Linked DNA regions of Homo sapiens. The protein of the gene in region 3 purifies or fractionates together with the protein of the main gene of each other region. This does not show direct contact. Each region holds a gene or a part of one and is shown on either strand. Other genes may lie near its edges.

Evidence for each region.
Region 1: the proteins of AKIRIN2 (region 3) and TOMM34 purify together in Homo sapiens (affinity purification with mass spectrometry; 2 studies listed by BioGRID and IntAct, with this or other methods). This does not show direct contact.
Region 2: the proteins of AKIRIN2 (region 3) and RGPD3 purify together in Homo sapiens (affinity purification with mass spectrometry; 2 studies listed by BioGRID and IntAct, with this or other methods). This does not show direct contact.

Annotation. Positions count from the first base shown.
Region 1 is NC_000020.11:44,958,241-44,961,992, forward strand, and holds the start of TOMM34 (mitochondrial import receptor subunit TOM34), read right to left. Parts: upstream 2,158-3,752; 5' UTR 2,094-2,157; coding exon 1,967-2,093; intron 1,298-1,966; exon of another isoform or gene 97-1,297; intron 68-96; exon of another isoform or gene 53-67; coding exon of another isoform or gene 4-52; intron 1-3. UniProt on the Homo sapiens protein: Plays a role in the import of cytosolically synthesized preproteins into mitochondria. Binds the mature portion of precursor proteins. Interacts with cellular components, and possesses weak ATPase activity.
Region 2 is NC_000002.12:106,461,806-106,465,457, forward strand, and holds part of RGPD3 (ranBP2-like and GRIP domain-containing protein 3), read right to left. Parts: intron 1-3,652.
Region 3 is NC_000006.12:87,692,232-87,695,883, forward strand, and holds part of AKIRIN2 (akirin-2), read right to left. Parts: intron 1-3,652. UniProt on the Homo sapiens protein: Molecular adapter that acts as a bridge between a variety of multiprotein complexes, and which is involved in embryonic development, immunity, myogenesis and brain development.

The DNA.
Region 1 (3,752 bases), on a different chromosome or scaffold from region 3:
TACTTTTTTCACTCAGTATCCTGTTGCCATGTTGATATTTGATATCTTTCATTCAATACCAACAATAACAAGCGTTTTCCCCTCTTGTTTTGCCAGGCCCAGAGACGGAAAGTACAAAGACTAGTAAAATACATCCTTGCCCTTAAGGAGCTAAGTACCCAAAACCTGTAATCCATCTTGAGTCACCAGAGTACGGTTGCTCAGAAACAGCAGTGGTGCGGTGGAAAGGGCATCAACCCTGCGATCCGGACAAGTCACTCCATCCCTCTGATCATGCGTGCCCACCTACCACATGAGGATATCACTTCATAGACTTGCTGGAAGGGTTCATTGTGTTAGCCTGTTCCCTGAGCTCTCTTCGTGATCAAGAAGACTGATCAGATAAATCAAGAGACTTGCCCAAAATTACCTAGGAAATCTGTAGCAGCAGCAGAACCAAACTCCGGTCCTTGCTAAATCTAGATACCAGGCTAGCTTTTCTATGGACCCAGAATTAACCCATACAAATGTACAAGCTTTTCCAGACCAGCTGGGGTGAGATGAATGAAAATGGCAGCAACATCAATACCTCAGCTTCTTCAGCAACTTCATCAAGTAAGGCTGCCATGAGGAAGTGGGCCTAAAGGAGAGTTTTCTAGAACAAAGAAGGGGGCAAAGGAGTGGCTTGAAACTGCAAAAAGTGCAGACAAAAAAAAAAAAAAAAAGAATGAAATCTGGAGAGGATGTGAGGAGAGGTCTAGCAAAATGATTAAAAATTTGGACTTAGCATCAAAGTCAAACAGATCCATATTCAAATCGTGGCTCTTCCATGTCTTCACTATGTAACCCCGAGGGAGCCAATTTAACTCTCTTGGACTCCTCCTTTCTAAGCATTTTATCCACAGGGCCATAATAAAGATCAAAGGAGATCGTGTCTAAAATGTCTAGCACATGGTAAATCACTCAAGAGATGCTAGCCAAGAAAAGGAAAAAAAGGAAGGCGGCAAAGGGAAATAGGTACTGAACGGTGACTCACAGAAACCAGGATCCAAGGCTCCTTTCAAAAGTCAAGGCTTTAACCAATGAGGGTTTCTGATTAAGTCACCCTGGAGAAGGGGCTTTGGGCAAAGGTCTGCGGTATGCTGACGAAAGCTGGACGCTGGGAGAACTGGTAAGAATATGCTATTCTTCTGTTTCAAACTCTCCAGTAGCTTCCCATCCAGCAGCTTTCATGCCAAGCTTCCAGTTTGGCATGAAATCCGAACTCCTTAGCAGAGTTTACAACACCTCCACAATAAATAAGGGTCTGCCTTCCTAACTGACCTCATGTCTTCCTATTCCCTGCCCTGGCTCACTATGCTTTGACCCCTGAAACACACCATGTTTATATCGTCTTGGAGGGGGGGCCTTTCTCATTGCAGTTCACTTCAGGACCGAAAACCTTGTGCGCTTGGCTTCTCATCATTTAGACATCACCTCAAATATCACTTCTTTACAGATGTTGCCCTTGATCTCCCACTCCAGTCAACTCTATCACATCACCCTATTTGTCTTCTTCCTAACCCTGATTATCCCACAGGTCTCGTTTACTTACTGACTCGCTTAAGACTCACGTCCTCCCCACCGCCCCCACAAGAATGCGCTGTCCTTGAGAGAAGGGACTTTTTGTGTCTTGTTACACAGGCGGTATATAACAGCTACTCAACAAATACTAACTGAAAAATGAATTGCTGCGGGGGAGGAGGGTTTAGCTTTCTTCTCAGGGCTCAGAACGAGGCCTAAATAACTTAGGATGGGGGCCAACAGGGCAGTTAACAAGCAGGTGGAAAGAAAGGGCCGAGGAAGTTTCTGGTAGGATGCCGGAGTCGGAAGGGGCTGGAAGGGTGGGAGGGCCGGGCAGGACTGCTGGCCGCCGCGCGAGGCCCGGGCGGTGGTTGCGGGAGTTGGAGGAGCAGGCCCGGAGGTGAGATGGGGGCCGGGGTCGTACCTTGCGCCTGCAGCACCCGCAGCGCGCGGCCGTAGAGCGCGGAGGCCTCGGCGTACTGGCCGTTGCGGAAACTCTCATTGCCGGCGGCGCGGAGCTCCTCCACAGAGTCTGGGAATTTGGGGGCCATCCCGTGGCCAGGCCGGCGAGTTGGGAGCTCCTTCCTTCCTCCCCCGTGTGGTGCGGCACACCTTCCGGGCGCAAGCGCCGGCGGCGAATATCTCCGCCCAACAGCGAACCCGCGGCGAGGGGGCGGGGCCTGCGAGACCTGGAGGCCCGGAGCGTCCCGCCCTCTGCGCGTGCTCGGTTTGGAACTTAGGCTCCCTTGCACGCGGGGCGGCAGCATGCTCTGGGCTCCCTGAGTTGCTAGAACGCCGTGGATGACGCAGGGAAGGAGGCTGGCCCCGCTATCAGGGAGATTATGTCCTAGTGGGGTCCCCACAGGCAATTAACTGATAAGCAAACGAAGACTCTCATTTCATGTGATTAGTGCTGTAAGGAAAACAAAACAGGATAATGCAATGGAAAGTGACCACGTGTGGGCTATTTTAAATAAGGGGATGAAGGAAGGCCTTTCTCAGGGGGTAATAGTTGAGCTGAGACCAGACAAGATTTAGGGAATGCTGTTCCAGCCAGAGGGATGGTAAGTGCAAAGGTTCCAAGGCTAGAAAGTACCTGGTACCTAGTGCTCTATAGATATTTATTTAATAAATTAATGCACAGGTGGATTGATGGTGTCAAAGTCAACATATAGAGATGAATCTCTAAAGTTTAAATATTTTATTTGGCAATCAAGAATTGCAATTCAGGGCTTACACACAGACCAGGTTGTCTTTGGTATGTCAGAAGAACAAAGAGAAGGTTTGGAGATTTTTATAAAACAGAAATGTTACATATTGCTCTTCAAGGAAGTTTACAGGCACTAGTAAAGTGGGGGTTTATCAGCTTCTTGGGGAGCTGGCAAGCTTTGATTGGTAAGTGATAGTGGTGGATAAAACTCAGAATTGTAGCAGGCTGTTTCAGTAGCTATTAGATAAAACTGGTTTTAGGTTACAGCAGGCAGTTTTAGCAGCCAGGCTTGCAAAAAATTACTTTTTTGGAGCAATGTTATATGCCCTGAGTATTTGTTCCCCTGGCTTTTCAATTCTGTCTTAGTTGGATATGACAAGAATGACCCAATTCGTATGATCAGCTTTCAGAATGGATGAAGATCTTTCACAGAGTGTGACTTCAATTTATCTCCAGCCTCATCTGACGACTCTATGTCCCACGCATTGCTATCTACACACACTAAATTCTTGCTTCCTAGCCTTTGCTTGTTATCTCCTTCTCCTGGATTTTTTTTTCTAAATACTTTTTCTCCTGCCTAATCCTGAATTAACTTATAACATTCCATTCAAACATCATCTTCTCTGAAAGCCTTTCCTGCTTCCAGCCCCCTCCCCACCCCCCACTATGCTCCCTTTGCTCCCTATTGGTCTCTAGCTTTATCCCTAACTTTGCATTAGTCACCCTTTGATTGCCAGTTTGTAGTTTTCCTTAAACACTGCGAGGTCTTTAATGGCAGGAAGTGGGTCCTTTTTATCTTTGTTTATCCAAGACCCTAATAGGGTCTGGCATCCAATAAAAGTCATTGATTGATAAAGATCTAGTCTCTACCTTCAGGAATTCAGTTATAATGATCTGCATACACTTAACTCCACCAGACTATAAGCTTTCTGAGGGCTGGATGGCTGTTCCATCTGAAATGCTTCCCCTTGCCCTCTGCCCCGACCAAGGATGAACACTG
Region 2 (3,652 bases), on a different chromosome or scaffold from region 3:
TGGCAACAGAGCAAGACTCCATCTCAAAAAAAAAAAGAACTATAGCAATCTTAACAAAAATAATACACAACAGTCAGGACAGCACGTAAAAGAACAAGGCTTGTTCCCCCCTTCCTTTTTTTTTTTGAGATGGAGTCTTGCTCTGTCACCAGGCTGGAGTGCGGTGGCTCGATCTCAGCTCACTGCAACCTCTGCCTCCCAGGTACAAGCTGGGACTACAGGCGCACACCACCATGCCCAGCTAATTTTTGTATTTTCAGTAGAGATGGGGTTTCACCATGTTGGCCAGATGGTGTCGCTCTCTCGACCTTGTAATCTGACTTCCTCCGCCTCCCAAGGTGCTGGGATTACAGGCGTCAGCCACGGAGCCCGGCCAGTTCCCCCTTTTCAAAATGAAGAAATAGATTCAAGGTACAATGCCAAAACATAATAGAAAAATAATTCCATTACCTTCTTTGCTTCCAACTATGTTATTAAAGTAGACAATCTTAAGATAATTAAACAACTTTACAAATTATTCTTCTGTATGATCTTTTGCCTCTAACCTGCTCACTTTACAAGGGAACTGAAGCTCAAGCAGGCAAATGCCTTGTTTAAAGATATATAGCTAGGAAGGAGCACAGCCCATGTTATGTAAACAGGACAATATCTGATTCAAGCAGTACTTCTTTGCATGACAGCAGATGTCACTATAAGCAAATACCTGAATTCACTTAAGCTGCCAAATATCAAGAACTGATGCAGGGCTGAAAACAGGAACAGTAAGACCCTAAGAGATGCCACATCATCGCTATCTTGCACAGTAAGATAGAGATGTAATTGTAATTGTCCAAAACTTAACATTTGTGGCCTACTTTTTCATTATGCAGTTCTGAATTTCTCTTTTTTTTTAAATTCAAACGGAGTCTCGCTCTGTCACCCATCTTGCACAGTCAAATGAATCTCCCTCCCCCTAAAATCCTCCAAAAAAGCTGCTGTTCTCAACAAACCCATCTGATCAGCTCCAAATCTGTGGAGTCCCAACAAGGGTGAAGGCCGTGATTATACAGGACAATGAGGAAAAGTCTAGATACTGAACCATGAGTTCCCCAATCTTCTTCCCCTGGAACATAAGGGTAAGGAAATCTCTCAAAAGGCAGAACAAACAAAAGAGGAGAATAAGAGAAAAATTAGAGAAACTCCAGCTTTCAGGTAAACATCATTAAAAAAAAGGGTAAGAAATGGTCAAAGAAATAATACAAGAAATGCTACAGAACTGAAAGAAATGAGTTTCCCAATTGAAAGGACACTTTCAGAAAACCTTTGTTACCAAGAACAAGAATCTCATCAGACTCCTAACAACAGAACTTCTAGAAAATGGAGCAATGCTTTCAAAATTGCGAAAAAAATTATTTCAAACTCAGAATTCGATAACCAAATGATCAACTAAATTAAGTAAAGACATTTTAAAGACATACCATTAGTTTCCAGACCAGCCTGACCAGTATGGTGAAATCCCATCTCTACTAAAAATAGAAAAAATTAGCCGGGCATGGTGGCGCACACCTGTAATCCCACTACTCAGGAGGCTGAGGCAGGAGAATCACTTGAACCCGGGAGGCGGAGGTTGTGGTGAGCTGAGACCATGCCACTGCACTCCAGCCTGGGCAACAGAGCAAGACTCTGTCCCAAAACAAAAACAAACAAAAAAACCTCTCATCCACTTTTCCTCAAAGCAAGTGAGACTATGCTACACCAAAACAAAGAAAGTAAATGAAGATGACATGAGATACAAGAAACAAAGGGTCTAACTCAGAAAAAAGATGAAGGGAATTCTCAAACTGGTGATAAAGGGAAGTCCCAAGAGCACAGCTGTGTAGCAAAGAGGAAGAAAACCCAATCCAGGTTGGAGAAGTCGGTTAGTAAGGGTATTCCAGGTAGACAATCAATCAATCAATCAATGTTTTAAGCTGAAATTGAACGGATTATGTGACCAGTTTGACCACATTTGAGGGTTTAAGTTGCTGAGTTTAAGTAAGCAAGTAGTAACACAACATACAAGCAAACCAAAAAATAAAGCAATTATTCAGTCCAGGAAAAACAAAACTGCACAACAAGGGCAATTCAAATGCAAAATATTTACCTTATATTTATATAAATGTTAAATATTCATTTAAACAAAAACTGCAATAACAGTACTGAAAGAATGAGGGGCAAACCAAAGTGTCTGAGGACAGTTTTGGAGGAGCATAATAGCCAGTACAGAATGTCTAAAATGGGGCCCGGCGCGGTGGCTCACGCCTGTAATCCCGGCACTTTGGGAGGCTGAGGCAGGCGGATCATGAGGTCAGGAGATCGAGACTATCCTGGCTAACACGGTGAAACCCCGTCTCTACTAAAAACACTAAAAAATTAGCCGGGTGTTGTGGCGGGTGCCCGTAGTCCCAGCTACAGGCTGGGGCAGGAGAATGGTGTGAACCCGGGAGGCAGAGTTTGCAGTGAGCCGAGATCGCGCCACTGCACTCCAGCCTGGACGATAGAGCGAGACTCCATCTCAAAAAAAAAAAAAAAAGAAAAGAAAATGTCTAAAATGGGAGAAAGGGAATTAAAAATAACAAAAGTATATATGTGTGTTACTCAGAAGTATGAAGTATAGATGTAAAGGGCAGAAAAAACAACTAACAGCTGTCAAAGGTGCCTGCCTGTAGTCCTAAGTACTCAGGAAACAGAGGTAGGAGGATCATTTATGCCCAAAAATTTGATGAGCAACACAGCAAGACCCTATTCTAAAAAAAATATAAATAAAAATAAGAGCTGTCAAGTAGACTTTGAGAAGTAGGAATCAGCTGCAGAATAAGAAACCGACTTGACAGAACATAGAAAAACTAAACAGAAGCCATCTGGAAAAAGAAAAACTAGAGAAAAAATTATATATTTTTTTCTTTTTTTCTTTTTTGGAGACAGAGTCTCGCTCTGTCACACAGGCTGGAGTGCAGTGGTGCAATCTCTGCTCACCACAACCTCTGCCTCCAGGGTTCAAGCAATTCTCCTGTCTCAGCCTACCGAGTAGGTGGGACTACAGGCGCTGCCACCACGCCCGGCTCATTTTTGTATTTTTAATAGAGATGGATTTTCACCATATTGGTCAGGCTGGTCTCTCGGCCTCCCAGAGTGCTCAGATTACAGACGAAGAATATTTTTAAGAAGGGCAAAAGCACATGTGAGGGAGTAGAAAAATGGCAAAACAAGAGGAGACTAACAAATGAAAGCACAATGGAAGACTAGAAAGATATGATATACAGACGCATCATCACACTCCAAAACTCCGACATTCTAGAAAGCATGGGCAGTTCACAGATGGCCAGCCTCTGCCAAACTGGGGGAGAATACTAACCTCTTCATATTCTTCACAGCCACTGCCTCTTCTCCCTCCATTCTTTACCTTCTATCCAAAGCACCCTGTTTTGTCATTTCACTCAAACCTAACTTCACAGAATAGCTTCACATGTTCCAAAGTTACTCACTAGTTAATCCATATTCCGCTGAAATCCCCAGGTTCTAATGTAAATGACTTTCAATTTGGGGGAAAAAAAGACTCTAAGTGTAAGAGAGGTGGTCATAATAACCAATCGTCAAAATCTTGCCACCACTCCACTTTATTTAATGGAGAAGT
Region 3 (3,652 bases):
AGTAAAAGTCCCATTTGAGGTTGCCTTCTTGAGACCATTTCCATCACTTGGCCAGTAAATGCTCTTAATTCTCACAACCCTAAGAGGCATATGCTACTATCATCATGTGCACATTTCCTGAGATGAGAAAAATGAGGCTCTGCTTCAGTGTCTTCTGCAATGTCACACGGCTTGAACATGGCAGAGCCAGGTTTGACCTCAGGGCCCAAGTTCTTAACATCTACTACCCTCTCCAGTAGTACATTACTACACTTAATCAAAATTCTATTAGCATTTAATGTTAAAATAAATCACAATGGGCTGGGCGCGGTGGCTCATGCCTGTAATCCCAGCACTTTGGGAGACAGAGGTGGGCAGATCACCTGAGGTCAGGAGTTCAAGACCAGCTTGGCCAACATGGCAAAACCCTGTCTCTACTAAAAATACAAAAATTAGCTGGGTGTGGCGGCGCACGCCTGTAATCCCCGCTACTCAGAAGGCTAAGGCAGGAGAATCGCTTGAACCCAGGAGGCAGATTGCAGTGAGCCGAGATCGTGCCACTGCACTCCAGCCTGGGTGACAGAGTAAGACTCTTGTCTCAAAAATAAATAAATATCACAACGAGGAAAGTTAATTTTTAGAAAACAGGAGTTAGAATAGACATCAGTACTATGCATAATTTATACTTTCATACACTGAAACTTCAAAAAATGGGATTGTCAAGAAGGCAATAACTGGTCGGGCGCAGTGGCTCACGCCTGTAATCCCAGCACTTTGGGAGGCTGTGGTGGTCGGATCAACGAGGTCAGGAGATCAAGACCATCCTGGCTAACATGGTGAAACCTCATCTCTACTAAAAATACAAAAAAGTAGCCGGGTATGATGGTGGGCACCTGTGGTCCCAGCTACTCGGGAGGCTGAGGCAGGAGAATCACTTGAACCCAGAAGGCAGAGGTTGCAGTGAGCGGAGACTGCGCCACTGCACTCCAACCTGGGCGACAGAGTGAGACTCCATCTCAAAAAAAGAAAAAGGCAATAACCAAAATGAAGCATAACTCTCATCTAATGAGACCCCTGAAACAGCAATGACTAGCTATAAAAAAAAATTGTAACACCTCTTCATGTTACATCCAGAAATGTATATAAGGGATGCTTCAAGACTCTAAAATGCCTCATCTTAGGACAGGTATTTATATCTAGCCAGAATGCTTTATTGGTGTTTTAAAAGTTAAGAAATGGCCGGGCGCGGTGGCTCACGCCTGTAATCCCAGCACTGTGGCAGGCCCAGACGGGCGGATCACGAGGTCAGGAGTTCAAGATCAGCCTGACCAACATGGTGAAACCCTGTCTCTACTAAAAATACAATTAGCCAGGTGTGGCAGTGCGCACCTGTAATCCCAGTTACTCAGGAGGCTAAGGCAGGAGAATCGCTTGACCCCAGGAGGCAGAGGTTGCAGTGAGCTGAGATTGCGCCACTGCACTCCAGCCTGGGCGACAGACTGTGACTCTGTCTCAAAAAAAAAAAAAAAAAAGTGAAGAATTATTCCAAGTTGATAGGTCAGTATTTCCACACATGTACAACTAATTACAATGCCAGGCTCTGATAATGCACTATTTTACCCTGGGCTATGAAAGATTGTCACAGTGAACATCAAGTCCCCCTCTCTATCATAGCAACTAAAATCTTCTATACTTTAAATCAAGTATACCACTTAGAAAAGTTCTTCTAGATAATCATATTTTAGTAGGAGGAACAAGACAATCTCCTATCATAATTAAAAGGCACAGTTCAGGGGGACAGTAATGTTTGAAAAATTGGCTTTCTTCAAACTTCACTGTACATTCTACTCTTCATTTACTCATCAGTTCAACAAAAATAAACAAAAGAAAAATCCAAGTCCCTCTCTCAAACCATTCCAACTAGTTTGATTTTTTTGAGGGAGTTTTACAAGAATTAACATTAACAGAAATGAAAATGAATGCTAACCAAAGTGAGAATACACATCATATACTGACACAATTTCAGAAACTTAGTAAACAAGCCTTAACACTTTAAGGAAAAAAACTGTTTCAAAAGTGATTTAATCAGTAAACCAATTTCAATATTTAGGCTATCAAAGGGGAAATGAATACTAATGTGGAAAAATATTAATAAGAAATGAAAATAGGTATACTGATAAAGCATAAAGTGCTAGCTAATAAAGTATCAACAGTGGCTGCTCTATCATCAGTCTCTCAAGAGAGACTCTTACTCTTCTTTGCCTAGCCAGTGCAGTATCTAGAACTCAAATGAGGTTCATAAGGGTTCGAACAAGTGACTTCTAGAAGAAGAATTTAAATGTTTTAATAATGTTAAGAAATCCAGGTACATCAAAAGACCTAAAAAGTCAAATCCAGAAGTTGTATTTAATGGAAAGATTACAATGTTAATAAAATCACAATAGCCACTAGTACATCTCAAGATGATCTGCCTGTGACACTTGTGACAGATAAAAACTAAAGGGAAAAAAAGCTACACCCCAAGACAAACTAAAAGTATATTATTATGAGCTGCTTTCTTAGTGCTAGAAAGTTTACCACCCAACAAAGCCTACCATCACAAGAAATATTACAAAAATTGTTATACTGTAAAATCCTCATCACCAAAAATATTACAAAATCTATTATACTGTAAAATTCTGATTAATAGGCCCAAAATAAATATCAAAGCTGAAAAACTAACATCCACTAGAATTTTAAATTACCTGCAGGGATTCCCTGCTTAATATAGATACAATATCATCTCATGTGAGAAACTTGCTATAACAAATAATTCAATTTCTTTGGAAATAAATCACAACTTCTTATTAAAAAGTATTTTCTTCTAAAAATCCTGTGAAACCCTTTAAAATGTTTCTTCCAATGAGCAAATACCTGATAATAGAAAAATTCTTATACATGGGGCTACTTAAAATATTGTAATTCATGTAATCCATGTTCTCATCATTATCCAGAAAAATGAAGAGAGAAATATACTTAAAGTTCCTCAGAAAAGTATTATTCAAAGTCTTAAACTAATTGCAGTATTTATTACGACTCGTTGGAGTCACATTTTTTGTCAAAAATGTTACACATTATGACAATGTCATAGAACAGTCTAAAAAGAAAATTTGGTACAGAATTACAGGGTAAAACTGAAATTACATTTTTTTCCAACCATAGCAACTCTAAGAACCTTGGGAAATGTCAAGACTTAAGATGCCTGATAGTTTTGTATAGGCTTAAATAAATATTTTCTCTCATACCTTTTTAAAAGCAGGCGGTGCTCTCAAAGGCAAGAAATTCCCTGTAGTTTCACATATATAGAGAACGTTCTTTGAATCAACAGTGCTAGGCATAGGGTTAACACAAGGACTACAGAGACTACAAATTGCTGGTTAACTAATTCAGTGATAGGTACTTGAAAATACCTACTCCCACTCCTAATACCATTATCTAGTTTCATGAACCAACTATTCAAGAGGCCCAAACTTAACCCATGCTATTACTTCACATTCTTCTTTTATAAAGAGAAAAATCTCTTTTCAAATAGGAAAGATACTCACAACTGGGCACTTCCACTGAAGCTTTTATTCTCAATCTTTCAAAACGAAAGCTTTCTATCACTGTCTTTCTAGATCTATCAAAACACTTA